Homo sapiens: one gene and its partners. The protein of the gene in region 1 purifies or fractionates together with the protein of each later gene. This does not show direct contact. Each region holds a gene or a part of one and is shown on either strand. Other genes may lie near its edges.

Region 1 (3,939 bases):
CAGTGAGCCAAGATTACGCCACTGTACCCCAGCCTGGGTGACAAAGCAAGACTCTGTCTCGGGGAAAAAGAAATTACATGCCAGGCATCCTATATTGTGGAAAGGGATTAGACTAAAGGGTGAACTCGAAATACAGCCTAACCTTACCCCACAAGTTATACCCACACCATCTTATTTAATCTTCCCACAAAAAAAACAAGCTACTAATATACATAAAGATCACAGGGGTGAATATTTAAATGGAATGAATAAATGGTCTGGGAGCCCTAGAGAACTCTCTACCGATCCCAGCCTTCACCTTCAGTTCCTTAAAGGCAGAATGGCCCGAATGTCCAAGTGTCAGCATTATAGATGGTTACTTTTTCCTCTAGTAAACCTCATGGCTTAAGAATTATTTTCCGGCCGGGTGCAGTGGCTCACACCTGTAATCCCAGCACTTTGGGAGGCCAAGGTGGGCAGATCACGAGGTCAGGAGATCGAGACCATCCTGGCTAACACAGTGAAACCCTGTCTCTACTAAAAATACAAAAATTTAGCCGGGCGTGGTGGTGGGCGCCTGTATTCCCAGCTACTTGGGAGGCTGAGGCAGGAGAATGGCATGATCCCAGGAGGCGGAGCTTGCAGTGAGCCGAGATCGCACCACTTTACTCCAGCCTGGGCGACAGGGCGATACTCTGTCTCAAAAATAAAAATAAAAAATAAAAATAAAAAAAGAATTATTTTCCATTGCTAACAGATATACTCATCTCCAAACCTACCAAAACCATCAGTATGCAGAACGACAGGCCTCATGGCTCAAGTTATGCAATCTACCAAATCCATTTTAGCACAGACAATATACTTGTCATCACGTCCTGAAGATCAGCTCAATGTCATGGTGCCACATGGTTTCCTGTCATCATTGTAGTCAGGATCAGACAGGCTGAGCAAATGGCCATTTTATAATCACTAAAAACTTAAACTCTCCCCCAAAACTGACCATTTATAAAAGAGAAACCGGCCAGGCGCCGGTGGTTCATGCCTGTAATCCTAGCACTTTGGGAGGCTGAGGTGGGTGTACCACTTGAGGTCAGGATTTCGAGACCAGCCTGGCCAACATGGTGAAACCTTGTCTCTACTAAAAATACAAAAAATTAGCTGGGTGTGGTGGTGCATAATCCCAGATACTCCGGAGGCTCAGGCAGCAGAATCACTTGAACCTGGGAGGCAGAGGTTGCAGTGAGCCGAGGGCACACCATTGCACTCCAGCCCGGCCAACAGAGCAAGACTCTGTCTTAAAAAAAAAAAAAAAAAAAAAAAGAGAAACCAATCATTGGAATAATATTTTATGTACTATAACCTTCTCCTAAGAATCACTAGTACTTGTGTATTTCTCACTAACTTTCCTTCTTGCATGTACTGTATTTTCATAAGGCTAAGTGCCAATGCTAAAGCAAAATAACTTGCTCACAGAAATCAATGAGTCAAACTTGGATGAAGAAATTGATTTTGTATTTTTCAACCCAAGCAACTGTTGAGAACAGTCCCTCAGGGACTTCTATTCCTAAAATAACAACATAGACACAAGAGGGAAAGAAAGAAAATCTTCAATTGATCTTTTCTAGGGCCAAAAAACTGCAAATAATAGCAGAGAGGGTTTGAAAAAGCAGAGACGGGGATAAGCAAAATGTTGTAAGGGAGGAGGAAGGAGATTTGCTGAGACTCATCAAAAATCCCCTCGGGTCTATACACATAACTCAGAGCTTAGAAAAACTAGCATTTCGCTTTCTTCTTTAAAAGTGTGGCCTAAAACTTTGTTATTTGTGTTATGTGGGGCTATTTATATATATTGTTTTTGGGATATTACCAAAAGGAATCCTGAGCTACCTCTTTGTTTTTTAACTTTTACCATTGTACTTGATTTTACTTATTTATTTAGACAGGGTCTCACTCTGTCACCCAGGCTGGATGCAGTGATCATGGCTCACTGCAGCCTCAGACTCCTGGGCTCAAGTAGTCCTGTTGCCTCAGCCTCCCGCATAGCCTGGTCTACAGGTGCGCACAGCCACGCCCAGCTAGATTTGAACTCACGTTAATGAGAGTAGCAGATTCAGAGGGTGACTAAAGGAAATTTCCTATTTAACAAAAACTTTTGACTAAGCAGGATTTGTATCCCCTGACTCTCAACTTGACTTTTGAACAGCAGGCAACAAAATATTAAAACATAAACTGATGATGCTGATTCTGAAAAACAAAACAAAAAATCCCAGACACAGCTAAAATCAACCCACAAAAGCATCAGTTTCCTAGGGCTTGCAATTCAATGTGTGGTCCCTGGACCAGCAGCCTCGGATAGAAATGTGAACTCTTGGGCCCCACCCCCACCCCACCAATCATAACCCATATTTCAACAAGCGCCCGGGTGCCTCCTGCACACTGAAGTCTGAGAAGCACTGCTCGAGGGTGCTGCCTGCCTCCTCCACCACATCCAGAATTAGTATCTGGATGATTACCTGGAGCCACCATAATACTTCCAAAGAAAAACCATTAAGGCCTTAGGTGAAGACTTTTAATAAGGAAATTAAAAACAAAATGGCATTTGGAGTTAAGTAAATTATACAAAGGCACTATTTTTGTTTGTTTGTTTGTTTTTTGAGATAGAGTCTCACTCTGTCACCCAGGCTGGAGTGCAATGGCACGATCTCGGCTCAATGCAATCTCTGCCTCCCGGGTTCAAGCGATCCTCCTGCCTCACCCTCCCGAGTAGCTGGGATCCTATAATGCCTACAGCTCCCACCATCATGCCCGGCTAGTTTTTGTATTTTTGTAGAGACGGGGTTTCACCATATTGGCCAGGCTGGTCTTGAACTCCTGACCTCAGGTGATCTGCCCACCTTGGCCTCCCAAAGTGCTGGGATTACAGGCATGAGCCACCACACCTGGCCAAAAGGCACCATTTTTAAAAAAGTATAGTTGACTAAAGTACCACTAAGTTGCAAAAGAAATGCTTAATAAATGCCTATAATCAAAATGGATGCCCTACATTCATTCACATAACACTGCATATTGTAAAACTCAATTCTTTGCCTTGGGTCTTTTAAGAAGAACCTCCCAGGGGAGCAACCCATAATGACACATGCCTTAGGTGTAATTCTACTTCAGAATTTTTATGACGAGACACTAGTGAGGAATTACTTTTAATTGAAAAGAAAACCTGTTCTCTGCCAATATAAATGGTATATTATATCATACTTCCTTACCATATTACAAGATGCTTACTGAATAAATGATCTATGTCCATCACACTCCCTCCCCGCAAAAAAGAAGGCTGGAAATCTGGTGTCCCACAATGAAAAAGGAAGTAACTAGAAGGAAGAAATCCAATGGCAACAAGTGGGAGCATTTACTAAAGAACAGCCTACAAAAAATACCATGGTCATGTACTTTGCTTCTGCATATTTTTCTAACAATCTTGGATGCTCCATCAGGTTGAATCCCAACTAACACACATTCACAAGAATGTACACATAGACATACATACACTCAGTACTACAACATTTCCTATTCTCAGGCTAAATCTTCCTCTATAATTAGAAAATCATTCCCCAAAGAAACAAACGAAAAACCCAAAATATAGTTTAGACCAGTTCATTGTTGCCCCAAAACAACATAATGTCATTAAGCCATCATGTCATGCTTATCAAAACAAATGATCTGCAACATGGCAAATGTAAAGAAATACACCACTTTAGTAACTATGGACAAGTCTGGCATCCTGGGCTTTACATCTGCTGTCGCGCTCCTGAGGATGCCCCATGCTGATTATTCATGGAGAAAAAGTATCCCTGATGTCGCCTTCCCACCCATAAAGGCTCATGAGGACCAAGGTAAACAAGGGACAGCTGAGAGCTTCCAAGGCCAGCACCCCTAGGTTTTAAATAACATAGGCAAGCATTTCAA
Region 2 (3,939 bases), on another chromosome or scaffold:
CTCCCAAAGTGCTGGGATTACAGGTGTGAGCCACTGTGCCCAGACTTACAAACACAGTTAATAAGGAGTTTAACACAAAGTTCATGTTCAATATCCAATATCTACTTCAAGTATGTATCAAAAGACGAGAGTTCATTTTGACATTTTAACAGTGGGGGAGGCCCCTTTATAACTACAGTTTTAATTTATTCACCTGGAAAAATTAACTCTCAAGATGACAAAAATAATTTTCCTTCCAGTTACCACTGAATATATATCTATAAGCTTACCCCCACTACCATCCCAGCCCACAGTTCTAACACATACCTGGTCTGTTAATTCGGTCAATTTTATCCATACTAGGGGAGGGGAGCCGAAGTCGAGGACTGCTTTGATTGGAGTTGTCTGATCCCACATCGTTGAATGAATCATCGAGAGTCAGCAGGAGTTCTTTTACACATTTATGACAGATACTATGTTGGCAAGGGAGAATCAATGGGTGGGTAAACAGCTCCTTGCATGCTGGGCAAATGAGCTCCCTTTCGATATTCTTAATGGTAACCTTGAGAGTAAAATAGTCCAAGTTAAAGGCTCTTAGTGGGTAAATATATTAACATTCTTATACCTCCTGAATAAGTACATGTGTTTATTTTTCCAAAAAGAATTAAGAAAATGATTTTCTAAATTTTAAATTTCTTTTCCCCAATAAAATTTGATACCATCAACTGCCCTCAACACCCATAACCCAGAACTGAAGGAACATGAGATAGTAAAAGGCAAAAATGAAGAGAAAAATTATGTAAAATATTAGGGGACCATGATATTTTATCAAAAATTATAAAGCCATCATTCGAATCTCCATCACCAGTGCACTGATTTAGGACTTCGGTGAAATCCTAAAAGTAGATCATGTCAATAAAAATTTTGAATACAGCACTAAGAGTAAGACTATATTCTTATTTAGTGAATTAACACTGTGACTGACAAATAACAGGAGCTATTAAACACTAGCTGAGTCAGTATGTTCATGGAAACCTAGTTGGTATCTATTTACAAGCTGAATTATCAGCAATTTTCTACATTAAATGCGACCATTCTTCATTAATGCCTGAGGTTCTCATGCTGTATATCAAAGCAATTATCTTAAAAGCACTTTATGAGTATGTATTAGTCCATTTTCACACTGCTATAAAGAAAATTACCTGAGGCTGGGTAATTTATAAAGAAAAGAGATTTAAGTGACTCACAGTTCCACATGGCTAGGGAGTCCTCAAGAAACTTACAATCATGGCAGAAGGGGAAGCAGATCTGTGTTACGTGGTGGCAGGTGAGAGAGAGCAAGAGCAGGGATACTGCCTTACAAAACCATCAGATCTTATGAGAATTCGCTATCACAAGAACAGCATGGGGAAAATCTACCCCTGTGATTCAATGGCCTCCCACCAGGTCTCTCCCTCAACACCTTGGGATTACAATTCAAGATAAGATTTGAACCTAACCATATCATTGTGGCCCTGGCCCCTCCCAAATCTCATGTCCTCACATTTCAAAACCAATCATGCTTCCAAACAGTCCCCCAAAGTCTTAACTCATTTCAGCATTAGCTCAAAAGTCCAAGTCCAAAGTCTCATCTGAGACAAAGCAAGTCCCTTCTGCCTAGGGGCCTGGAGAATCAAAAGCAAGTTAGTTACTTCCAGGATACAATGGGTGTACAGGCATTGGACAAATGCTCCCATTCCAAATGGGAAAAATTGGCCAAAACAAAGGGGCTACAGGTCCCATGAAAGTCTGAAACCCAAAAGGACAGTTATTAAGTCATAAAGCTCACAAGTGAGATCTCCTTTGACTCAATGTCTCTCATTCAGGGTACGCTGATCCAAAGGGTGGACTGCCATGGCCTTGGGCAGTTCCACCCCTGTGGCTTTGCAGGGTACAGCCCACACACCACCTGCTTTCATGGCTGGCATTGAGTATCTGCAGGTTTCCCAGGCGCATGATGAAAGCTGTTGGTGGATCTACCATTCTGGGGTCTGGAGGACCATGGTCCTCTTCTCAGAGCTCCCCTAGGGAGTGCCCCAGTGGGGACTCTGTGTGGCGGCTTATATCTCACATTTCCCCTTTGCACTGCCCTAGCAGAGGTTCTCCATGAGAGCTTCGCCCCTGCAGCAGACTTCTGCCTGGATATCCAGGTGTTTCTGTACATCCTCTGAAATCTAGGCAGAGGTTTCCAAACCTCAACTCTTGACTTTTGTGCACTGGTAGGCCCAACACCATGTGTAAGCCACCAAGGCTTGCACCCTCTGAGGCAATGGTCTGAACTGTACCTTGGCCCCTTTTAGCCACAACTGGTACTGGAACAGCTGGGACACAGGGCACCAAGTCCCAGTGATGGCAGCTGCAGCCCATCTGGAGCAGCTGCTGCAAAGATGCTGGCTGCAGTTGGGAAGGCACAGCCGGACCTGCTTGCTCTGCAGAGCCAGCGGGACCCAGGAACAGGCAGGAGCCCTTCTCCCTTCCGAGTTGGTGCGGAGGGAGCCCCATGCTCCTGGGTGCAATTGCAGCCACCCAGCTGTGGACTAGGGCATTCCTATGCTCTCGGGGGCCCAGGATGCCTCTCTTCCCCCACATGCTCAGAAGTGCCTGCTCCTACTGCTTGGCCTCTCCCCATTCCCAGTGCCCACTCTGACTTTGGAGAAAAGCTGTGGCCAAGCCCGGGCACTGACATGACCTGGCCAGGTGTGTGTGTGCTTGAGGAGATGCTGACACACCAGCCCCCTGCCACCTCAGCTCCCTCTGGACTTTGGGCGCTGATGAACGTGGGAGGGAGGCCAAGGGCAGGGCTGAGGGTGACTCAACGTGGTACTGCAGGCGTCCCTCAGCTAAAACAGTCTGGGCACCATGAACAGCAGTGGGAGGGAGACAGGCTCCTGGGAGGAAAGGGACAGGTCCCTGCTGAAACCCCACCTTCAAGCCAGGGATAGCCTGAAGCCTAGGGTCCAGGCTGCCAGTTCCACTGACTGGAGTGAAAACTTACAGTGAATTTTCCAGGCCCACCCATGGCCACCCATGGGCCAATCAGCACACACTTCCTCCCCTCTGAAGCCCATAAAAACCGCAAACTCAGCCAGACTCTGGCAGATGATAGGACGACCTGCCTGCAGGTAAGAGCTACCCACTTGGGTCTCCTCTCCACTGAGGACTGCACACTCGACAAAATGACCTGCCTGCAGAGAGGAGGTACCCACTCCGGGTCTCTTCTCTGCTGAGAGCTGCAGTTGTCGGGAGGAACTGCCTGCAGAAAGCAGCTACCCATGACAGGTCTCCTGAGAGCTACTCTTTTGCTCAATAAAGCACCTTGTTCACCCTCCAGTTGTCCATGTAGCTCATTCTTCCTGGACACAGTACAGGAACTCTGGACCTGCCAAATGGCAGGACCAAACAAGCTGTAACACAAACTGTGTCAAATACACCCTGCTGCTCGCCATGTTGTGGGTGACGATGAGGAGACAAGAGAGGAGAGAAGAGCTGCAGCCCTTCAGGGAGCCTGGACTTAGGAGCTCCCCAAGCCAGGGCTGTGACATCCTCTTTGTGGCTCTGCAGTTGCCGGCATCTCCAAGTTTCTGGGTGCCACCATGTTCCACAGTGCTTGTAGTGGGAGCCACTTGTGGTACACCTGTTCCAGCCACAGCAAGGAGCCGGCGCCCATACTGGCACCTGGACCTGCCTGCCCCGCCACAGCCACCATGCCTGGCTGTGCACACTGTACCCCGCGCTCGCTCACTCATGCACCCCTTGCTGCTCTGCACCTGGCTTGCCGTTGGCAGCCGTGGGATCTGGGCCAGTAGTGAAAACCAAGCACAGCCTGCTGGGTCAAGTGGGCAGAACAAGCCCAGTGGGCCTGAGCAAAACTTGGGCAAAGGCAACACTTGCCACAGAGGTTTCTGGCTGGTGAAGCGACAC
Region 3 (3,939 bases), on another chromosome or scaffold:
AGCGGGGGGGCCTCCCGGCCGGGACCCCTGCTCACCGCATCCATGGCACTCGCTGCCTTCTGGTCGCCATCCTCGCTGTGGGAGCCCCCAGAGGAGCTACTGTCAGAGGCCAGCAGGGGGGCCTTCCTGGTGACACACACGTTCCAGGCACATGGAGAAGCCGGGCTGACTGCAAAGTAGGAGGCCTGTGCTGTCCAGTGAGGCAGGAGGGGTCACAGGGTGCGGCCACTCCAGCCATAGGGTCCCCATACATGTGGCCCTCTCACATGCAGCCTGTTGCCTGCACACATGTGCCTGTGTGGGAGCCGCATGATGAGGCAGACAGGCTCACGCACCTGCCATGGGGTCTCCACACAAACAACCCTGTTGCCTCCCCCATGATACAGGGACACATGCCCTGGTCTCACAGGAGGACGCAGAGGCTCAGGGAGGGGCCCACTCCGCCTCGTGTGGTCCTGCCACAGCTCCTTTAAGCCCAAAGGACCCCAAAACCGGGGACACCAGTGTTGGGAGCCAGCTGTCACTCACCTGGAGCTCTCAGCCTTATCTGGGGGAGCTTCTGAGCCTGACTAGGGGGCTGGGGGCCAGGGGCTCTGATCAGGCCACAGAACAGCTTCCTGCCAACAACCCACCCACACACATCTCAATGCTGGGGTCCCAGTGCTGCTGTCCGGAATCCAGGGTGCAGACCTGAGCTGTGCCACCTACTCAGACCAGGCTCAGAGCCAGCCCAATGGCCTTGCTGCCTCCCCTCTGGGGGCCTCCCCATCTACACGTGGCTGCTCCAGTCCCATTGCTGTATCAAACCCCAATGTCACCAGAGACGTAGCAGCATGCGAGGCCCCGGCCACCTCCTCCCACTGCCCCCAAGGAGGGGGGCCAGCTGGCCTCAGGCCTTAAACTGGGCAAGGCTGGGTGCCGCCTGCACTGCTCCTACTCACAGGCTTTCTCAGGGCCTTGGCTCCGGCTGCCCTCAGCATGGCTGCATTCTGTGTCCACCGGAGAGCTGCACCTGGGCCCTGACTCGGAGCTGCATACAAGGACGAGGACAGGATCAGTCCTGGGGGACAGGTGCCTCCTGGCCCTGACAGGCACTTCCTGGCACAGCCCCCTCCTGCCAGCGCATTTGTTACCAGCAGAAAGGTTGGAAGTCAGTGAACTTGGCCCAGCCTTTCTCCTCTGGAGCTGAGGTGCCAGCTGCCCACACACTGGAACCCACGTCCCTCACCACTCCTGGGGCTGTGGGCGTTGAGTTCGCTGGCTCATCAAACACTGCCGTCCACATGGCGCCTGCTGGGGGAGAGACACAGTGGTCAGGCGTGGGCAGGCCTGGGGTGCTGCAGGCAAAGGGGAGGCAGCGCCCCTGCCCCGGGAGCCCCTCAGAGGTTGACAGGAAGATGGGGCTGCTCCAGGAGGGAGGCCCAGGCAGTGCCCGTCAGCCCCTCAAGGAGCAACAGGGGACAGCTCGAGGGTCCTGACAAGCTGCCGACACCCATGGGGCGTGTGACCTGGGGCTCAGTCAGGTGCCTGAGGGCCCCCAGGCCTCCAGCAGGACTGACACTGACAGTGTGGAGGTGATGCCACTGCCCTGTCCTACCCAGGACCGCAACCCACAGAGCCGGCAGCTCACCGAGCACCACTGGCCCCTTCCTGGCCTCGAGGATGGGGTGTCTTCCTCCTATCTGGGATGTTCCTGCTTCCCCAGGGTGTCACCCTTGCTCTGTCAGCGAAGAGCTCAGCCCCTCCTAACAGAGATCTCTGCCCCCGCCACCAAAGTCCTGAGTGCCTCAGTGCTGCCCCCAGGGCAGGGTAAGGAGAGGGGTCTCATCAGCCATGCGGCCTGTGAGGTGGACTGGCTCCTGCCATAGATGTCGGCCATGAAGGTGGCGGCCGGCCTGTGCTGCTGTGCTGGGGAGGGCGTCAGGCCTGTGCCTGACTGTGTGGGGGCTGGACGGACGATGGAGACTAGGTGGACACCACCCACCAGCCTTGGCAACGTGGCTGAGTGACCACAACTGCAAGGCAGGGGCAGGAGGCCACCTTGCGCTGGGCACAGCGCAGCACAGACCCCTACTCAGGACGGCTGGGAAATAGCTGGGGATTCAGGCTCCGGGCCACAGTGAGCCCCAAATGCCTCAGCTCCAAATGAAGCCTCCACAACACCCAGGCCGGGGTACCATGTCCTGTCCCCGATACCCACACTCCCAGCCCCTGGCGCCCAGCACCACCTTCTGAGTCACCCTCCACAGGGGGCGCTTCCTTCTTCCCGGGGGCCGGTGGGGCACCTGCCCCAGGTGCATCTCTGTGTGCTTCCAAGCTCGCCTTCCCATCCTGGCCTCCACGCTCTGGGCCATTCTTTGAGCAACTCTCTGAAGCATGGGGGGCTCCAAACCTGGGGGAGATTCAGAGTCAGATGTCTGGTGGCCCAGGACGGACGCCTAACATGGAGGGTCAGTGGCGGCCCCAGGCTCGGGGCTGAGGGTGAGCACAGATCGTCTCGAGAGAGGAGCACGAGACGCTCCAGGCCTCAGCTCTGGGCTCCTTAGGGTCACCCGCTGCATTGGGCCCCAGAGCTGGCAGGACAGGTGTGGCTGCTCTGCAAGCCAGCTAACGAACCACAGGGCGTCTGACAGGTGTTCTGGGGGCTGAACCTCCTCGGCAGAGGCTTTGTGGGGATGGGCAGGCCCCGCACCTGGGTCTGGCCATCACCCGGGCAGCACAGCGAGTGTCACTGTCCTCCCAGATGTCCTCGTCCTCATCATCATCAAAGGGCTGGATGCGGTCACTGCAGCAGGCCTCAAACAGAGCTGCGCTGGGCTGCAGAGTAAAACGCCAAGGTGAGTTTCCAGAGGGTCTGGGGGAGACAGGAGCCGCTCTCCCCATAGAGCTCCCAGAGGGGCTTAGTTCGGGATGTGGGAGCCCCGGGCTGGAGGGGAGGACGGGGAGGGGCAAGGAAAGCGACTGTTCCGAGCTCCACAGAGGGGCCTCTCCCAGCCCCACCGCACAGGCCCATGACAGACCGAGCCATGGGCATGGCCTGAGCTGCCTGGGAAAAGGGTGGCGGCACCCCACACAGCCCGGCTTGCTCACACTGTCCTCGTCAGCGTCGATGTTGAAGTTGATCTCTGCGATCCTGTCAAACGGGGCACTGCAAGAGCAAGGGGGATGGCTTCAGCGTTCCTCCAGGCCCACTGCTCATCTGGGGCCTCAGTGCTCCTCCCCCGGTGCTCATCGGGGGCCTCAGCACCCTCACACAACTGGGAACACCTGCTGTCTCCCGGGGACATCAGACGGCACTCCCGGCAAGACCTCAGGGAGCTGCCTCCACGGGAGCTCAGCAGCAGGGAGAGCCGCGCCTCGTGCAGAGTGCGCTCCAAGTAGACTCACTTGATGTTGTCGTCCTGGTCGGCAAACTCCTCATCATTGAAGCCAAACTGATCCACGAAGTTGGCTGTCATCTGCTGGATCTGGTAGTCAGAGAAGGCCTGGGAGGGAGGGAGGGAGGGAGGGACGGACAGACACCGGTCATGGAGGAGGCATCAGGCCTGGAGGCTGCTCTTTGGGAACCACAATCTCTCTAGTTGTTCGGGAGCTTCTCCTCCAGCACAAGTGGGCAGTAAACTCTGTTCAGGGCTCACGATTCTACCAAAACTCAGGCTGCGCGCTCGCTGCGGTCACATCTGAGATACGCCCCATATTCTCTGACTTTCGAGTCCATCTGCCGTGTCCTCAGTGCTCTCATCAAGGTGGAGTGACTTTGGGGTTCTCCCTTCAGACCCACCCCGCCCCATACGTGCTCGGAGACGAGCCCCCGCTCCCCTTTGCTAGTGAGATGCCATCAGACTCGTCTGGAGGACCAAGCGCAGCGCACACAGGTGCCGGGAAGGGCCCGGCAGGGTGCAGGTGCCGGCCACGCCCTCACCTGCTGAAGGGACAGCT
Region 4 (3,939 bases), on another chromosome or scaffold:
GAGGCAGGAGAATGGCGTGAACCCGGGAGGAGGAGCTTGCAGTGAGCAGAGATCATGTTACTGCACTCCAGCCTGGGTGACAGAGCAAGACTCCGTCTCAAAAAAAAAAAAAGAAAAAGTAAAAATCAATCAATCAATCAATCAATCAATCATGTATTCATCATAGATAAACCAGTCCTCTTTTAAAAAAGGGACTAAAAAGTAGTGTCTAGATTTACTTACCAATAGCAACAAAAATCACTAGCTACTCAAGACCATTGTTGGGCATTTAACTTACCAGAGCTTCAGCTTCTTTAACAGGTTGTATTAGTCAGGAAAAGAAAAATTACTATAGATATTTCAAACAGAGGGGAGTTTTAATGCAGGGAAATAGCTACAAACTTGTTGGCTGGGCTGGAAGAACAAAGCGGAAAAGGTGGTTCTCTGATCCCATGAGCCTGCACTCCTGCTGAAGCTGCTGGAGCTACAGTACTAGTACCTCTGCTGCTGAGCTGGAACCCAGAGACCCAAAGTCCCACTGTTGGTGCTGCCACTGACAAGAACAAGAGAGGTACCTTCTTCCCACCTTCTAATATTTCTTGAGTACTTCCAATATTTCTTGAGTACTTCCATCAGCCCTCTAACCAGAACCCAGATGGCATAAGAACCAATGAAATGTAATTGTGAGGCTTTGAAGAGTGGCACAGCTCCTCAGTTTTAGAGAAAGAATCCTAAAACCTAAAATTCTACAACTCAATTTCCTTTTTAGGTATGACATCATTGGATGGTGCTACTTAGGTGGCAGAATTTCATTGACCCAAAGGTCTTGGGTTATGAGTTACCTGGGCCGAACTGATTCATGAACATTCTGTATGACTTGTTTGTCAACCCATCACTAATTTGATACTTAAAAATGAAAGTCAAATCCTGTATTTATGTCATTTGTCCTCTGCTGCTCTGCAATTAAAGGTCTTAAGGGGCCAGGTGCAGTGGATCATGCCTATAATCCTAGCACTCTGGGAGGCTGAGGCAGGAGGATCACTTGAGCCCAGGAGTTCAAGACCAGCCTAGGCAACATAGCAAGACTCTGTCTCAACAAAAAAAATTTTTTTAAAATGAGCTGAGCATGGTGGTGCATGCCTGCAGTCCCAGCTACTAGGGAGGCTGAGGTAGCAGGATCACTTGAGCCCAGGAGTACAAGGGTGTAGTGAGCTGTGATTGCACCACTGCACTCCAGCCTGGGTGATGGTGAGACCTTGTCTATAGAGAAAGGAAAAAAAAAAAAAAAAAAGAAAAGACTTAAGGGATACCAGTTGTATCTTCCTTCCAAACAGAAGAATCTTTTTTTTTTCTCATTCATCCAACCAATGCCAACATGTTACATACTAAACATTAGGGATGCTTAATGGGAGACTTCCTTATCCTCTCGAATATTCACTATTTTATGGGACAATAAGAGAAAAACACATAATAATAAACAGGTAACAACATTGAGAACCACATTATATAATGGAGAACTACCTAACCCAGCCTGGTGGTAGGGCAAGGAGTGTTAGGAAAAGCATCCTGGTTATAGGGGCCTGACTTGAGCCCCAGGAATGGGTAGGAGTAAGCAGTAAAGCACTGAAGAAATGGAGGGTAGTAGATTTTCAACAGAGTGGACACCATGAAGAAAGGCAAGCTACAAGGAATTACAAAAAACTTTACTTGTCTATTGGAATGAAATGTGAGCTGAGTGGATCAGGTAAATAATAGATTAGAATAACTAGGTAAGGGTTAGGTCATGAAGGTTCTGGTATGCTGATGTTGAGGGCTTCAAATTTATCATGAAGATAGTAAGAAGCCATCGGAGAGTTTAAGGAATAACATGGTGATATTAGTTGTCAGGTCAGTGTTTTTCCAACTCCGGAATCAATTTAGTGGATGGCAAGCACACATTTAAAAAAATGAAACAGAAAAGAATACAAGATATAAGATTGCATGGCACAGGGTAAATGTAAAGATTTTTCTTGAATCAACCTTTTGTTTTAATTATTCATACATATATAAAGTATACATAAGTTGCAATACAAAGTGTATTTTTACTGGGGGCCACAGTCAAAAAAGTTTGACAGCCACTGTTTTATCCTCACTAATGCTGTTTTACAGTCACTGGTGCTGTGAATGGATGAGTTAGGAAGCTGACATGGCAGTCCAGATAAGACATGGGTCATGAACTAGAGCATTTACTACATGTGGAGCGAAGAGGAACAGCCTCCAAAAACATGGAAAAAGCAAAAGAACTGGCAGAAACTGTAACTGACTAGATGTTAGGGAAAGAAGAAAATGTATACAATGACTTCCAGATTTCCATCCTCAAGTGTTTTATGACTTGACAAGCACACTGTCAGATACACTAAATGAACAGAGATCCTCTCCACTTTGTTCTACTCCACTTCTTCCACACAAACCCTGTTTACTTTATGCCCTTTTCCCTGGTAAGTGGAGTTCAGCCAAACCAGCGCTCAGAACCACCACTGAGGAAGTGAAGAGATCAAGCTCAGACAAGCTGCTTTCGTTCCTGTCATTTCACCAACATCTCCATACATTTTTCCAGTTTGGTTTTCCTATCTACTTCCTTCCTATATGGGACTTAACACAAGATTCTTAACTTTCATGTATGCAGTTTATACTAGAAAACACACAAAGAGAACTACACTGAAGTCAACATTAAGGATAAATGCTAAATACTACCCAATCTTTCCCCATCTTACAACTACTTACCTACATAACCCTCCCTCTACCCTTTACTCTCAAATTATTATATTCTTTATCCAAAAACATTTAGTGCTTTCTTCAACAACCCACCTCGTGCTTCTGCTTATTGAAATCCTTTATAGCCCTAGATCACATAGGTCACATTTTACCCATGAAACCTTTCTAAATTACCTTTTGCATTTCTTGCCTATCCTTCTACATCATCATACTTCGTCAATTAAAGTCACTTTTTTGGGTAACATTTCAGAAATTGGGATTCCTCTTACAATTGCTATCAGACAGAAGCCAATTATGATGTTGTCATTGCTTACACATGGGAAAATAACAAAACTGCCAGCATGACATTTGCATATGACAGTCAACAGCCTGAAAGAAATTCCCAGAAATGATACTGGAGCATTCATTTCACCCTCTAGGAACCAAATGGACTGGGAAGGAAGTAGAAGATGGGGAATCCCTAAGCAGCAGTCAAAGTAGGCTGGCTTTGCATAATTGCAAAGCTGAAGGCCAGCACCAAAACCTTCGCATTCTTTTTTGGGATCTTGAAAGGAATGCTACATCACCAATTCTCTTGGCGGCACAGAGGATGTTTAACGGAAAATTACAGGTATTAACAACTCTGACTCCAAAAACAATTCAGAAGGCAGACTCTAAATATGTGAAATTTAGCAATTCCTTATGTGTTTTTTCACTTGTGTTTTCCATCTTATTGAATGTGCAAGTGACATATGACAAAAATCTATGTCTAACTCTAAAAGAGCTCTTTAAAAAATTCTAAGTAATCAAAAAAGCATTGTATCTTAATTTAATTGGCAATGAAGCATCTTAAATTTATTACATCCTAGATTCTTTAGATAGTACGAAATATAGCATTCAGTGCTTCAACTGTGTTACTTCCCAAATATCTGCCTGAATTATGGATTGAAATGTCTGGGTTTCCCCACCAAATTCATATGTTGAAGCCTTAACTCTCAATGTGATGGCATTTGGAGATGGGGCCTTTGGAAAATAATCAGGTTTAGATGAGGTCATGAGAATGGGGCCCTCATGATGGGATCAGTGCTCTTATAAGAAGATAAAACGAGAGCTTGCTCATGCTGTCATACTCTCTCTATGCCATGTGAGGACACGGGCAATCCAGGAGGAGAGCCCTGATCGGGAACCAACCACGCTGGCACCCTGACTTCCAGACTGCAAACCTAT
Region 5 (3,939 bases), on another chromosome or scaffold:
AAGCAAGTCAACCACATCAACATGTCCTTCATAGGCAGCTACCAGCAGTGGAGTCATGCCATCTTTATCACAATGATCTACTTCAGCACCTCGATCAATTAAAAGGCTAACAACTGATGCGTGCCCTTTACTTGCAGGCACACAAAGTGCAGCTACAGAGAGTGCAGTCCTGCCATCAACATCCTCATGATTTACTTCTGCTCCATGGTCCAGTAGGTGTTCCACAATCTCTCTATGTCCCATGTATGCTGCTGCTATCAAAGCAGTTCTACCTTCATTATCAGCTTTGTTCACTTCAGCGCCATGTTGTAGCAAATTCAGTACAATATCCTCGTGTCCTCCCCATGCTGCTGCTCTCAAAGCTGTTCGGCTATCAGCATCTGCACAATCCACTTTTACGCCAGCATAAAGTAGTGCAGAAACTACCTCAGTATGGCCACCCCAAGCAGCAGATCTTAATGCTGTCCAACCATCTTGATCAGTATGATTAATATTTGCTCCACACCCAATCAAACAATTAACCACCTTGGTATGTCCCTGTCTAGCCGCTAGAGTGAGTGGTGTATGTCCATGAGCATCTTCTATCTCTAAATCTGCTCCCCTAGAGACAAGTAAATTGACTACATCAAGACTGCCACTATATGCAGCATTAGCCAATAATGTTCTCCCATTTGAATCACACTGATTTACTGAAGCTCCATTATCTAATAATGTCCGAATGGAATCCTCTCTTTCTAAGGCTTGTCGAACTATGCATGATGTGCGATCGTCTTCACTGTTGACATGAGCCCCAGCTTTAACCAACAGCTGTAGCACTTCTTGTTCCTTGGGTATCAAAGTAGAAAGGGAATCTCTGACAGGTGTACCATTCCATATCATCCACAGAGCTAACTCCGCTGTCTCTAATTGTAAGTTTGAGTTAATTAAGTGCAATGCAAATTCTTGTGCTTCCAATGGTGTTAAATTCTTGGCTTGACAGGTATAACTCATAGCCAACATTCTGTGTCCTTCTGCTGCATTACATAAATACTTCTGAGTACAGTGTTTCACATCCAGAAGCCACTCGGCAAAACTATAATGAAACAGTATTTTTGTATTTCCTAGTCCATCAACAAGAAGTTTGGAGAGGATATCTAACTTGCGTTGAAAATCTTCCAAAGTTAACGACATGTTTTTGGTCCATACTGCGTGATATAATTCCGTTATGGTCAAAGGTCGGCAGGCTGCAAGAATCACATTCAAAATAGGCTGAACCTTTGCAAATTGTTTTCTTACAAAAAGTCTTTGGCACAGCCAGAGATATAAACCATTTAGAGTTCCTGGGATGTCACGAATTTCTCTTAACATAATAAAATTTTCTACAACTCCATCTAAAACTCGTTCTAGGTAAAGAAAGCATCCACTGCTTTTAATGTGCAGTTGATTTAACATCTCTGCAGTTTCTTTTGTGAGGTGTTGTCGCAAAGCTTCTTCTTGATCTAAACGATGAAGAATGTACTGCTGAACATCCTTGACGATATATGCCTTCCGAAGGTCATCTAAACTTATTTTTCGAAAACCTAAAGAAGAGATAAAAAAGTAGATGTAATCAGTTGAAAAGGATTATAGAAGTACCATATCTTCAAAGAGAATGTCAACATATAATAAATAAATCAATTAATAAATTAATACTAATAAGCAGATCAATTAATACCTATTAGTATGTAAATCAGTTTTCTTTTCTTTCTGCAAAAACACACTGATGGCAGAAAAATTTCATTTTCCTACCTACAAATTGAACTACTTATTCCTTTAGTAGCTTGGTGCCTCTCTCAACTCCATTGTAATAGATACTAATTAAGAAGCAGACAGTCTTACATAACCATAAAAGTACCCAGTTAACATCATCTGAACTCCCAAGTGATTGGGAAAAAAAGTTGCAGGAGACATAACAAGTAAGGTTTCTTTTTACAAAATCTCTTCCATATAAATAATTTATATATTTTCACCTATACACTTGAATATACACTAGCCTTAATTATGTGACTGAATATTTACATCCAATTAGAATATCCAGTCATTGTCTTTAAACTACATTACTGTACATTTTATCAAACTAAAATAACTAAATCTCAGACCATCAATAAATAGCTTGAACCAATTAAGATCCAACTTTTTGGCTAAATTATGGTCAAAAAACTTCAGCACTGTAAAATAAATAATAAGATTTAAACCAACCTAAAAATATACTAGCTATAGCTATTTTAAACTCATTTTAAGTTCTTTAAAGGAAGCCATAATTTCACTGTCTAAAGGCAGATGACATCATGATATACAGATATGAACTTATTAGACAATTGTGTATTCATCTTACAGAACAAAAAACTGCTAAGTGAATGAACTTACCAAGTCTCTAACATGACCAGATTTGCATTTTGAAGGAATATTCTAACATCTAAAGAAGAACTGGAGCAAGTCAAGACTAAAGGAAAAACGATTTTTAAAGAGGCTGTGATGCACTCTAGATGAAAATCACTATGAGCCTGAACAGCCATGGTGGTGGCAGCAGTTGCAGCAGCAGCAGCAGCAGCAAAAATAACGTGATGGACTTGGGAATTTTTAATAAGAGCTAGATTATACAGTGTTTGGTGAATGTGGAGAAGTAAAGAGAGAAGGACGAGTCAAAGCTGACACTAACTTGTGGCTCTGCCAACAGGACTGAAAAAGAGACCAGTGAAGGACAAATAATAGGTTTGGAGAAAAAGCTGATGAACTCAATTTTGTAATACTAAGCTTTAAGTATGTAGACAAAATGGACAGTTATTGAAAAATTAAAAACAACCTACCAAGAATAAAATATGAATAACAGTTGTACTAATATAGCCCTTTGTATATAGATTTATATAGCCCTAAATCTATATAAAAATAGAATCTAATTTTACATATATATGTATACACACACAATTGATTATTAAATCCTCAACAGAAATAATTTCAAAAGATAAATTTCAATTGTGAAAAAGTCACTGCTCACCTAAGGAGGGTTTAAAACATACCTAGAAATTTACAGCAATCTATATTTACCAATGATGTGAGATGATTTGCCTCCAAATCTTTTTCTGTGTGTCCATTTGCTTTTGACTTTATCAATTCACTTTAAAATTTAAGTTAGATAAGGGAAATACCTAGTACATTGCTAATAAAATAAGTTACTTAAGAAATAATATTATTTTACATTATATAGTGTTTTAAAGTTTCTGAAGCAATGTAATACTTTACATTACTTTAATGTAAGACTTTATATTACACTACTTGATTTACATGAAAGATAATACATTATGAATAAATATCTAAAATTTAAACCTAATTAACTAAGATGTCATGATTGGAACTTGAGATTATTAAGACAGAAACTCCACAGTAACAGGTAGGGTTCTACAGAAAGGAATAAAGGAGAGCTACATTTATTGAGAGTCAACTAAGGTAGTAGTTTAAGTATTCATTATTTATAAAACTTCCTTGTCTGTTAAGCCTGGGAGATAAATATTTCTATTTTAAAAAATGAGGAACCTAAAGCTCAGAAAGGCTAAATAAATTGCTCACAGTAACACAGCTAGAAAGTGATAAATTTTGATTGTTTTGTTTGACTTTGAAGTTTGCTCTTTTCATTAAGATAGGAACAAGAATAGAAAGCTGTGAAAGAAAACTCAAGTGTTTGACAGGGGAATGAAGAGGAGGGAGTAGGGACATAGGATTAATTCTATAAGAAAGTATAGAATTTCATAAAGAAAACTTACAGAGAATTTATAATTTAGAGAATAAATCTCCCCCCAATCTAAATACTTAATAATATGGATTTTAGATAGAAGAAATTACCATGTTCTTTACCAATGATGGTTATAATAGTTATCTGTTCATTAAAACAGAACTAAGAATATCTATTAATCAACAACTTAAATA
Region 6 (4,704 bases), on another chromosome or scaffold:
GTACTTTGAGAGGCTGAGGTGGGAGGATCGCTTGAGGTCAGGACTTCAAGACCAGCCCAGGCAACATGGAGAAATCTTGTTTTTACAGAAAAAAAAACAAAAAACAAAAGAAAATAAGAAAATTAGTCTGCTATGGTAGTGCACACCTGTAGTTCCAGCTACTCGTGGAGGCTGAGGAGGGGGACATCACTTGAGCACAGGAGTTTGAGGTTACACTAAGTTATGACTGCACTACTGTACTCTATAGCCTGAGTGACAGAGCAAGATTGTGTGTCAAAAAAAAAAAAAAAAAAAAAGCAGAGGCTGATCTCAAACCACTGTCAACCTCAAAACCATTCAGAACACCAACCAAGCAATTTTGGGTCAATAGTGCCACCTGAAGGCTGGCAACGGTAGAACTGTCAGATCCAACGTCCACCCCTCCCTCCCCACCATCTGCAGATCACCTACAAGCCTGTTCTTCCTTTTCCATTCAGCATTCTCAGTTTCCTGATTCACTTCTTTGCCAACTCTGGTTGGGGGTGGGGTTGTTAGGACTAGGGTTATAGTCTCAAGGTGAAAAAAATTCATTTAGCAGTTTAATGTATAAACAAATCAGTGCCATAAACCTCTAAAAAGCCTTGCAAATGTCCAGAGTCACCTAGTTTCTTTGCATGCTTTTTCTCTTCCTTTGCCCTTTAAAGTTACCTTTTTCCAAACATTAGATTAAAAAACAATAGTTGCTTCATCAACTTTGCTTTGTTTGCTTAATTACCATTGTGGCATCAGAATATATTTCTGCTGTAATTGCACAGTATTTCCACAGTTAGTTATCTGTAAGCTGGTATGGGAACTATCAGTTTGTTACAGTGTTTTCAGGAAAATCTGTTCTGAATTCCAAGTCCCTTTATTTGTCAATGAAGAGGCAACAGGGATTCCTGAGGCCTAGGTTTGACTACTGGCTCTGTCACTTAATCCTTGGGTTATTGTGAACAGTTACTCATCTTCTCTGAGTCTCCTTTTCTGAAAACAAAGCTTGCATGACTAGTGCGAAAATGAGTAACAGTGGCACTGAGTAGTAAATGGTAACTTACAAAAAAGAACGAGCCCAGATCTGTAAGTTTGGTTTTCATATATTCTACATAGACACATTTGTTTATTCCTTGTTCTTAATCATGTTTAAGAAAAAAAAAAAAAGAGAGAGAGACAGACAGATAGATACTCCATATAGTAAAAACTTTGTGCCTCCCTGGAATGATGACCTCATTTACAAAGACTGACAGCCAGAGAAACATAGGGAGAGGACCAGCACCTTGATAACTTGACAAGATAGCCAGGAGGAGGAAGGGACTCAGTAGGACAGTAGTCACTGAAGCCATCACAGGATGCTGCTGTTATGTCCATGCCCATTTTGGAATGTGGCAAATTACTGGGATACATAACTTGTAAGTAAAAAGGTCACACTAGAATAGGCTGGAACATGGTTATATCATAAAATCCAAGTCCTAAAGTTTTATGACAGAGAAAGGGAATAAGCCTTTTCAAACCTGAATCCCTTACTAGAAACAAAGGCCCACTTGCTAAACAGGAGGAAACTGAAAGTGGTTTTAACAATTACCAATGACACTGCTTTGTTGTTTCCTTCCACAGTGCACAGACACATGTCTCTCACGAAGAATAACACGGGAGCTTTTCTTACAACGTGCATGTCAATTACATTTTGATTCACATGAAACCATTCTCGGGGAGTACAAGTCACTTTAAGTGTTACCTTTCTTTAAATGTGAACTAAAGAAAACTGTACTCTCATGAAAAAAGTTAACTGGAGCTGAAAATGCTAAGCAAAAACAAATTACTCAAATGTGCTGAGCAAAACAAATTAAGCCCACATGAGAAGAAAATTCCCATATTTTTACTTTGGCATAACAGGGCAAACTTCTTTGATCTTTTTGATAGGTCTGATGCATTTAAAAGATTATTTCAATAAGTGGCTTTGTATTAGGTTTGCCTTTTCTCTTTGAAAGGTAAAGATGAAGTGCAAGAGTTCTTAACCGGGATGTGCTTCAGCGTTTTGAAAACAGTGGAAGTGTACATCTGTATGCCGATATGTGTATGTATGTGTGTGTGTAAATTGTTCTGGGAGAGAGCTTTCTCCAGTTTCCCAAAAACCATTGGTTAGCAGAACGCACCAGCTGCAGAATAAAAAAGCTGGTTGGAATCTCGCCTCTGCCTTTTAATGGCCACGTCGTTTTTGTAATGGTGCTTATTCTCTGCCAGGTTCTCTCATCGACTACACGAGGACAGTCATACTATCTGCGATGTGAAGCTAATATGCAAAATTCACGGCACAGTGCCCACCCTAATAACCATCAGGATCCAAGGAATTCACATACAGTGTACACACGTTGTCATAGAAACAATCTAAACATAAAAACAATCTCAACAGAATGCTTAAAAACAAAAAAACCCGGTACCGATTATTTTACGGAGTCATAGAGGCATCAACGGCACTGAAAATGTATTAGCTGCATTCAGTTCATCAAGAACAATCTTCAACTCCCTCCACCTGACTCGATCATGCCTGACTGTGATGGAAACTGTAGTATTGTCAAGTCAACCGATGTTTGACTCGGGAGCGCATTTCGCAAATATTTTTCTTAAATATCACCTTACCGTATTTTTCTTAAGGTGGTTACAAAATTAATCTGCAGCCCACCACCCAAAGCTACAGTGCCGAAGGCCGTGTGATGAGCAGAGAAACTGAGCCTTCTACTGTTAACCAATATGGAAGAGAGTAATTGCGCCTGAGAGGAAATTACGGCAGCGGAAACGCGGGTATTCTACGTTTAAGAAATCCCCCAACTGAGGCAGAAAAAGGCCAAGTTATTTGTGTGATGCACGTGAACCGCCCGAGCTGGTCACTAATGAAGTGGATTCGCCCTATTCCTGGCGACTCTACAAGGTTGGAGACCCCCGTAGACTTCGCAGCCATCGCCCCTTGCTGCAGACCCCCAAAGTCACCGACAGCCTTACCTAGACCTGACCTTCCTCACCCACGCGCCCTCGTCCCGGAAGGCCCGCCCTCTACCCGGCTCCAAGCTCGCGCAGGCAACTATTACGGGGAGCAGTAGAGAAACGGAAGCTTGGCAGCTAGAGCGGAGCCCTAGTGAACGACCCGGAGTTACTGGCTCCCCCTCCTGAGGCCTCCGAGGTGTACCTGGCGCCTGCGCAGTAAGGCTAGCGCCGCCGCCTGTGCGGAGGACCCGGGGAGGTGGTGGGCTGGGGAGAGTTAGAAAGGTCTGGCTCTCCTGGAAGGGCATGCACGGTTCGGTAGTATGTTTTGGTGGGAATGGCTACAGACCTGCCTCCAAAAGCTCTGAAGCAATGGCGATGCGTGTGCCGTGTGGTCTTTCTGACCGACTTGCGGCGCCATCCCCCTCCCCTTCCATCTATCTGCTCATCTTCTAATAGTTAATTAGGATCCCTAGCTGCAAGCCTTCCTTGCTACTGGGTTAGGAGCGCTTTCCCCCATTGACCCAGGAGCTTCTTCAGGGAGTAGGGGATGGAACGTTTGTCTCCTCAGTAGTTATCTTAGACCTCGCTGGGCAGATAGTAGAAAGCATTGTGAGTATTTCACCCCATACTAAATCTGTTTTCAAGCAAGCCACATCCCATAGGCATTGTATGCAGCACTTACTCAATGTTTGATAGTTTGGGTGAGGAAACTGTACTCGTTTTCTGAGTATCGTTCAAGGCATTTTATAAATATTTCAAAATGTACCCTGGAATTAATATCGGTAGTGAGTTGCCTACCTAGTGGGTATTGTATTTACACCCTCTTTCCTCCTACAGAATTTACTTTTAAGTTAGAATTTGACGTCTAATCAATCTATGCTATAGGATTTGCTTTTATCAAGTTAAGTTTTGACATGTTATCAGCCTTATATGATATAGTAAACAGCCTTATAAAGTTGGGTCTAGTGACTACATTTAAGTTTACAAAGGGGTAATGAGTATCCTATACATGGCTACAGTCCAGAAAAGAAGTCCTAAGGAGCGAAACTCCTGGGAGAAATTTCGTCTTGTCTTTTGTACTTGTTTCTGTGGAGTTGGCTTGTTTTTATGTAATGGCCACTGAATCATATAAACAAGAAGACTTCCTTTACGTGTAAGCTGCTGGTTTAAAGCCAAATTTTAATTGGCTCGAGGCAAGAGCTATATATATGTGTGTGTATATATATATATACACACACATATATATATTTTTTGCATAAACCTTGTTGGCTTCGTTTTGTATATCCTTCCTGTTTTTTCCTTTTCACGTATGAATTATTGGTGTTATCAATGTTTTGTGAATTACTATAAGCTACCATAAATCTTTCTTGAAACATAGCTAGGTATATAGAGTTTCAGGTGACTGTTTAGGTACTTTGCACTATCACTTTTATTAAGTCAATTTCATGGGGGTTCATATTAGTTTCCTGAGGCTGCTATAATAAAATACCACAAACTTGGTGTTGTAGAGCAACTGAAATTTATTATCTTACAGTTCTAGAGGCCATAAATTCAAAATCAGCATCACTGGGCCAAAATCAAGATGTTGACAGGGCTGTGTTCCCTCCAGAGACTCTAGGGGAGAATCAGTTCTTTGACTCTTCCAGCTTCTGGTGGCTGCTGGCATTCATTGGCTTGTGGCCACATCACTTTAGACTTCAAGGCCAACAT
Region 7 (3,939 bases), about 59 Mb from region 1:
AAGAGAGAAGGGGGCTTTGTTGTGAAACAACAGCTTGAAAAACTGGCACGAGTTATATTGGCATTGTCATTACACTTTTAATTTTTCACAGCTAAACTGGTAATAGCAATTTATAGTAACAGGTTTTACACGAGTCACTGTGGTGTAACACATGGAGACATGTAGTCAGCCCACTTTGTTGTTGTTGTTGTTTTGGAGATGGAGTCTCACTCTGCCACCCAGGCTGGAGTGCAGTGGCACAATCTCGGCCTACTGCAACCTGTGCCTCCTGGGTTCAAGCGATTCTTCTGCCTCAGCCTCCCAAACAGCTGGGACTATAGGCATGCACCACCATACCTGGCTAATTTTTGTATTTTTAGTAGAGATGGGGTTTCACCATATCGGCCAGGTTGGTCTCGAACCCCTGACCTCGTGATCCACCCACCTCAGCCTCCCAAAGTGCTGGGATTACAGGCATGAGCCACCACGCCTGGCCCACTCTTTTTTTTTAAACAAATCCACTCACACCTACATTCTGTTCCTTTAGGGACAGAGACCCAGCAGAGCATGCGCAAGAGGACTGCTCCTGTCATACACCCATGTCACTGACAACATAAACATTTACGATCCCTGGTGTGTCCCTTTGGGTTCAACACCTGCTCACACTAGCTCCACACCCGGCCCCTTGGGACCCCCTCAAAAACACTGGTCCTGCAGGGCAGCAGGGAGTTTGCATCAGAAAGTGCAGTTCTTACCACAGTTCTTCAGGGTCAGGAGAGGGTGGTTTGTAGGCAGTGGTTCTGGGCTCGTCACATCCAGTCCAGCAGCTGCAATCTTACCACTGGCCAAGGCCTGGTACAGGTCGTCCTGGTTTACGACGTCGCCCCTGGGAATGACAGTGGTGACATGGGTACCCCGAAGATCCCTCCGCCCAGGCCACCTTTGAGGCAGAACAACCTACAGAATGAATTTTTCCACTCACTTGGCACTGACTTTTAAAGCAGTAAGTCTTAGGTATACTTACAGTATGTCTGTAAGTCTTATATACTCAGAGAACTCCAGCCCTGCCTCCTTCTAGCTGTGTGACCTTGGGCAAGTGTCTCAAATTCTCTGTGCCTCGAATTATCTGTGTCTCAAATTATCTACTCTGTGAGATAAGGAGAATACCACCTAACTCCCAGGCATGTTGGGAGGATTAAAGCTTTCTTACATGCTCTACTGCATGAACAGGGCCCAGAAGGGCATCTGTGTTAGGCCCCATCCAAGTGTTTCTGATCTGGTTGACCCCCAGACCCCCACTGAGAAGCACCACAGTGTGCTATCAGGTACCTGTCTAAACCAGGGCAGAGGAACGAGCACACCCCTAACCACAGCCATCAAAGGGAGCGGCGACTGAAGGCAAGAAGTCATCTTCTAGAGACTGTATATTGTGCACTAAGTAATACTTGTGCACTAATGAGTAATACACGGTCCTGGGCTGTCCTGGGTACATGCAGGCACCCAGTACACGGCAGCTGTGACTGCTGCCAGCCAGCAGTGCGAGCCCTGTGGTCCTGCATGTTTCACTCTTCCATTCCCAGGTCACCTGTTTTGTAGCTAAATGTTGGTAATTACAGGTACCTTTGGGGTGGACGAGTCCTCAGGATGACCTCACCCAATCCCCCTTCCCCTAAACTGATGTAAACAGGCTCAAGGGGCACCAGCTAGGAAGGGCTTGGAGTGGCAGAGAAGGAAGGTCTGACCTCCATACATGCCCAGTGGCCTGAAGGCACCCCTAGGGACAGTGTGAGGAGCTACGACCACGTGAGTTTTAGGGTCTGTCCGCCCAGGAGCATAAGGTTCAAAGTATCACTGAACCACAGCCAGACAAAGCCAGGCTCAGCAGTGTGGGAGGCGGCCTCCAGAGGGCCCTTCAGATCCTCAAGTCCAGCCCTTTGTGGTGGAGGATAATGGGCCTGCAGAGGCTCCCTGGGAACACTCCCTGAAGCCACGCTGCTGTGTGCCAGGCCCCGCCGGGTGGGGGCCACTGCTGAGAAGCAGACAGGCCAGGCCCACTCTGACGGCTCTTCTTCCCTGTACGGAGGTCTCGTGTATTCCCACGAATTTCTGAGTTGGTTGTTTGGTTTATGGAAACCAGCAAGCTCAGCCTGGGGTCTCACCAACAACCCACGGGGAAGAAAATCTCCAGATGGCAGCAGTGGGGATGGCTCCTCTCCAGGCTTGCTGGGTAAGGTGGCCCTAGGATACCTGCTGATGTTGATGAACACAGCTGTTTCCTTCATCTTCTGGAAGAAGTCCTTGTTGCAGAGTCCCTCGGTTGCAGGTGTTAAGGAGCAGGCCACGACGATGAAATCAGATTGGGCAGCCAGCTCAGGGGTAGACACTGAGGGAGGGCAGGACTCCATCAGGCACTGAGTCCCAGGCTAGGGACAACCAGATGGCGGGAGACCAGCCCCTTGCTCCCGACTCCCTAACAGAAACTCCCAAGATGCTTCCTGAAGGCCGAGTCTCTACCTGGACAACTCTCATGAGTGCACAAAGTCAAATCACACACAGTGGGATCTGGACCACTCTGGCTTTAACTACCTTCAGGGCCCAAAGTGCCCAGGGGCGTGGGGAATGCTTGAGATCCAGCCTGCCATCTGCTCACCAGGCTGTGGACCCGCCAGGTGCTGGATCCGCCTGGACTAAGGGGCGCACACAAAGGCTAGGGTAGTGCTTGCCAGTTTATGAAGGAAAAGACAGTGAAAGTGCCCAGCCCTTCCTCACACCCACCACCATCCCCGCTGCTCCGCCCACAATGGGGAATGGTAACAAAGGACTCTGAAAGACGGGAGCCCTGGACTGCTCTGCTGGCTCGGAGAGGACCTGGGTAAGTCCCTGTGCTCCCTGAGTGGGCCAGTGTCCAGGGGCAGGTAGATTAAACATCTACCAGACAGCAGCCCCTGGACATGCCTGGAGCTCCTGCCCTCTGCCTGAAAATGCCACCATTGAGAGAAAATACAGCCTCTCAACTGGGCACAGATAGGCTCCTGTGGAAATCAAGGCTTCACTTACCAAACTCTGCCTGGAATTCTGCTGCTTCCTCAGGCCTGGGCTGGCGCCCTGTGTACAGAAATCTCTGGACACCGAATGGTTTCAGACGCCGAGCAATGGCCTGGCCTAGAGCAAGGAGAGTCCATGTCTCGTTCCCAGTCCCGCAAAGGGTAGGGACACCACCCAGCATTTCTGGAACAGCGGCCCTCAGGGCAGACCCTTTTCATCAGCACAGCCCGAGTTGCCTGCTCCTGTCTCCTCCAAAGCGGGTGGGGGGCTGGCTGCCCCACTGTAACTAGCCCCCAGCCAGCCCACACTGCCCCAGGGATCTGGAGACAGCACCTCAGCTCCCCTGAGGCTGTGACTGGCTGATGCTGTCCTCACATGGTCCAAGCCATCTGGAAAGCCACTCAGGTTTTTCCTAACCTCTGAGAACTGGAGAGGTTTTCACAAGGGAGACACCTGGTCAAGCAGTCCCCTCCTTTGTCCTGGACCCTCTGCTTCTGTGAATGCAGTCTCAGACCCCATTTGACTTTTTGGTGGCACTGCCAAACTGCCAGCTCACCCCAAACTTACAATTTTCATGTAAGCTGCTGCTGAGACAGATTTGTACAGTTGGATTTTCAGGCTCAGAACGTGCCCCAAAGCTGTTGGGTTCCTCCAAGCAACTCTCTAGTGAGAGGCAGGGCTGTTCGTTGGCTAGACAGGTTCTCCACACTCTCCACCCTCACCCGCACCCCTGCACCAGGCAGGATGACAGAGAACCACCAATAGATAGCTGCTTGGCTAGGCTCACGCCCTTCTGCCAGGCTTCTCCAAATAAGGGCCACTGGAAGAAAAGTGTCTCTGCCTCATCTGCAGAACTGCAGATCAACTCTGCCCACTGAGCCCTCCGGCCCGAGTTAGGGCTTTGTGAGTCACATA

What was found.
Region 2: the proteins of CDC14B (region 1) and TRIM36 purify together in Homo sapiens (affinity purification with mass spectrometry; one large-scale study listed by BioGRID and IntAct). This does not show direct contact.
Region 3: the proteins of CDC14B (region 1) and PPP6R2 purify together in Homo sapiens (affinity purification with mass spectrometry; one large-scale study listed by BioGRID and IntAct). This does not show direct contact.
Region 4: the proteins of CDC14B (region 1) and HMGCS1 purify together in Homo sapiens (affinity purification with mass spectrometry; one large-scale study listed by BioGRID and IntAct). This does not show direct contact.
Region 5: the proteins of CDC14B (region 1) and ANKRD50 purify together in Homo sapiens (affinity purification with mass spectrometry; one large-scale study listed by BioGRID and IntAct). This does not show direct contact.
Region 6: the proteins of CDC14B (region 1) and MRPS33 purify together in Homo sapiens (affinity purification with mass spectrometry, with the first as the bait; one large-scale study listed by BioGRID). This does not show direct contact.
Region 7: the proteins of CDC14B (region 1) and GRHPR purify together in Homo sapiens (affinity purification with mass spectrometry; one large-scale study listed by BioGRID and IntAct). This does not show direct contact.

Annotation. Positions count from the first base shown.
Region 1 is NC_000009.12:96,518,455-96,522,393, forward strand, and holds part of CDC14B (dual specificity protein phosphatase CDC14B), read right to left. Parts: intron 1-3,939.
Region 2 is NC_000005.10:115,163,212-115,167,150, forward strand, and holds part of TRIM36 (E3 ubiquitin-protein ligase TRIM36), read right to left. Parts: intron 542-3,939; coding exon 307-541; intron 1-306. UniProt on the Homo sapiens protein: E3 ubiquitin-protein ligase which mediates ubiquitination and subsequent proteasomal degradation of target proteins. Involved in chromosome segregation and cell cycle regulation. May play a role in the acrosome reaction and fertilization.
Region 3 is NC_000022.11:50,437,052-50,440,990, reverse strand, and holds part of PPP6R2 (serine/threonine-protein phosphatase 6 regulatory subunit 2), read right to left. Parts: coding exon 3,923-3,939; intron 3,486-3,922; coding exon 3,388-3,485; intron 3,149-3,387; coding exon 3,091-3,148; intron 2,818-3,090; coding exon 2,693-2,817; intron 2,393-2,692; coding exon 2,229-2,392; intron 1,294-2,228; coding exon of another isoform or gene 1,291-1,293; coding exon 1,134-1,290; intron 1,031-1,133; coding exon 942-1,030; intron 191-941; coding exon of another isoform or gene 170-190; coding exon 1-169. UniProt on the Homo sapiens protein: Regulatory subunit of protein phosphatase 6 (PP6). May function as a scaffolding PP6 subunit. Involved in the PP6-mediated dephosphorylation of NFKBIE opposing its degradation in response to TNF-alpha.
Region 4 is NC_000005.10:43,299,551-43,303,489, forward strand, and holds part of HMGCS1 (hydroxymethylglutaryl-CoA synthase, cytoplasmic), read right to left. Parts: intron 1-3,939. UniProt on the Homo sapiens protein: Catalyzes the condensation of acetyl-CoA with acetoacetyl-CoA to form HMG-CoA, which is converted by HMG-CoA reductase (HMGCR) into mevalonate, a precursor for cholesterol synthesis.
Region 5 is NC_000004.12:124,670,976-124,674,914, forward strand, and holds part of ANKRD50 (ankyrin repeat domain-containing protein 50), read right to left. Parts: intron 1,560-3,939; coding exon 1-1,559.
Region 6 is NC_000007.14:141,011,899-141,016,602, forward strand, and holds the start of MRPS33 (small ribosomal subunit protein mS33), read right to left. Parts: upstream 3,055-4,704; 5' UTR 3,013-3,054; intron 2,782-3,012; exon of another isoform or gene 2,653-2,781; intron 1-2,652.
Region 7 is NC_000009.12:37,428,934-37,432,872, reverse strand, and holds part of GRHPR (glyoxylate reductase/hydroxypyruvate reductase), read right to left. Parts: intron 3,142-3,939; coding exon 3,037-3,141; intron 2,363-3,036; coding exon 2,227-2,362; intron 866-2,226; coding exon 735-865; intron 1-734. UniProt on the Homo sapiens protein: Enzyme with hydroxy-pyruvate reductase, glyoxylate reductase and D-glycerate dehydrogenase enzymatic activities. Reduces hydroxypyruvate to D-glycerate, glyoxylate to glycolate, oxidizes D-glycerate to hydroxypyruvate.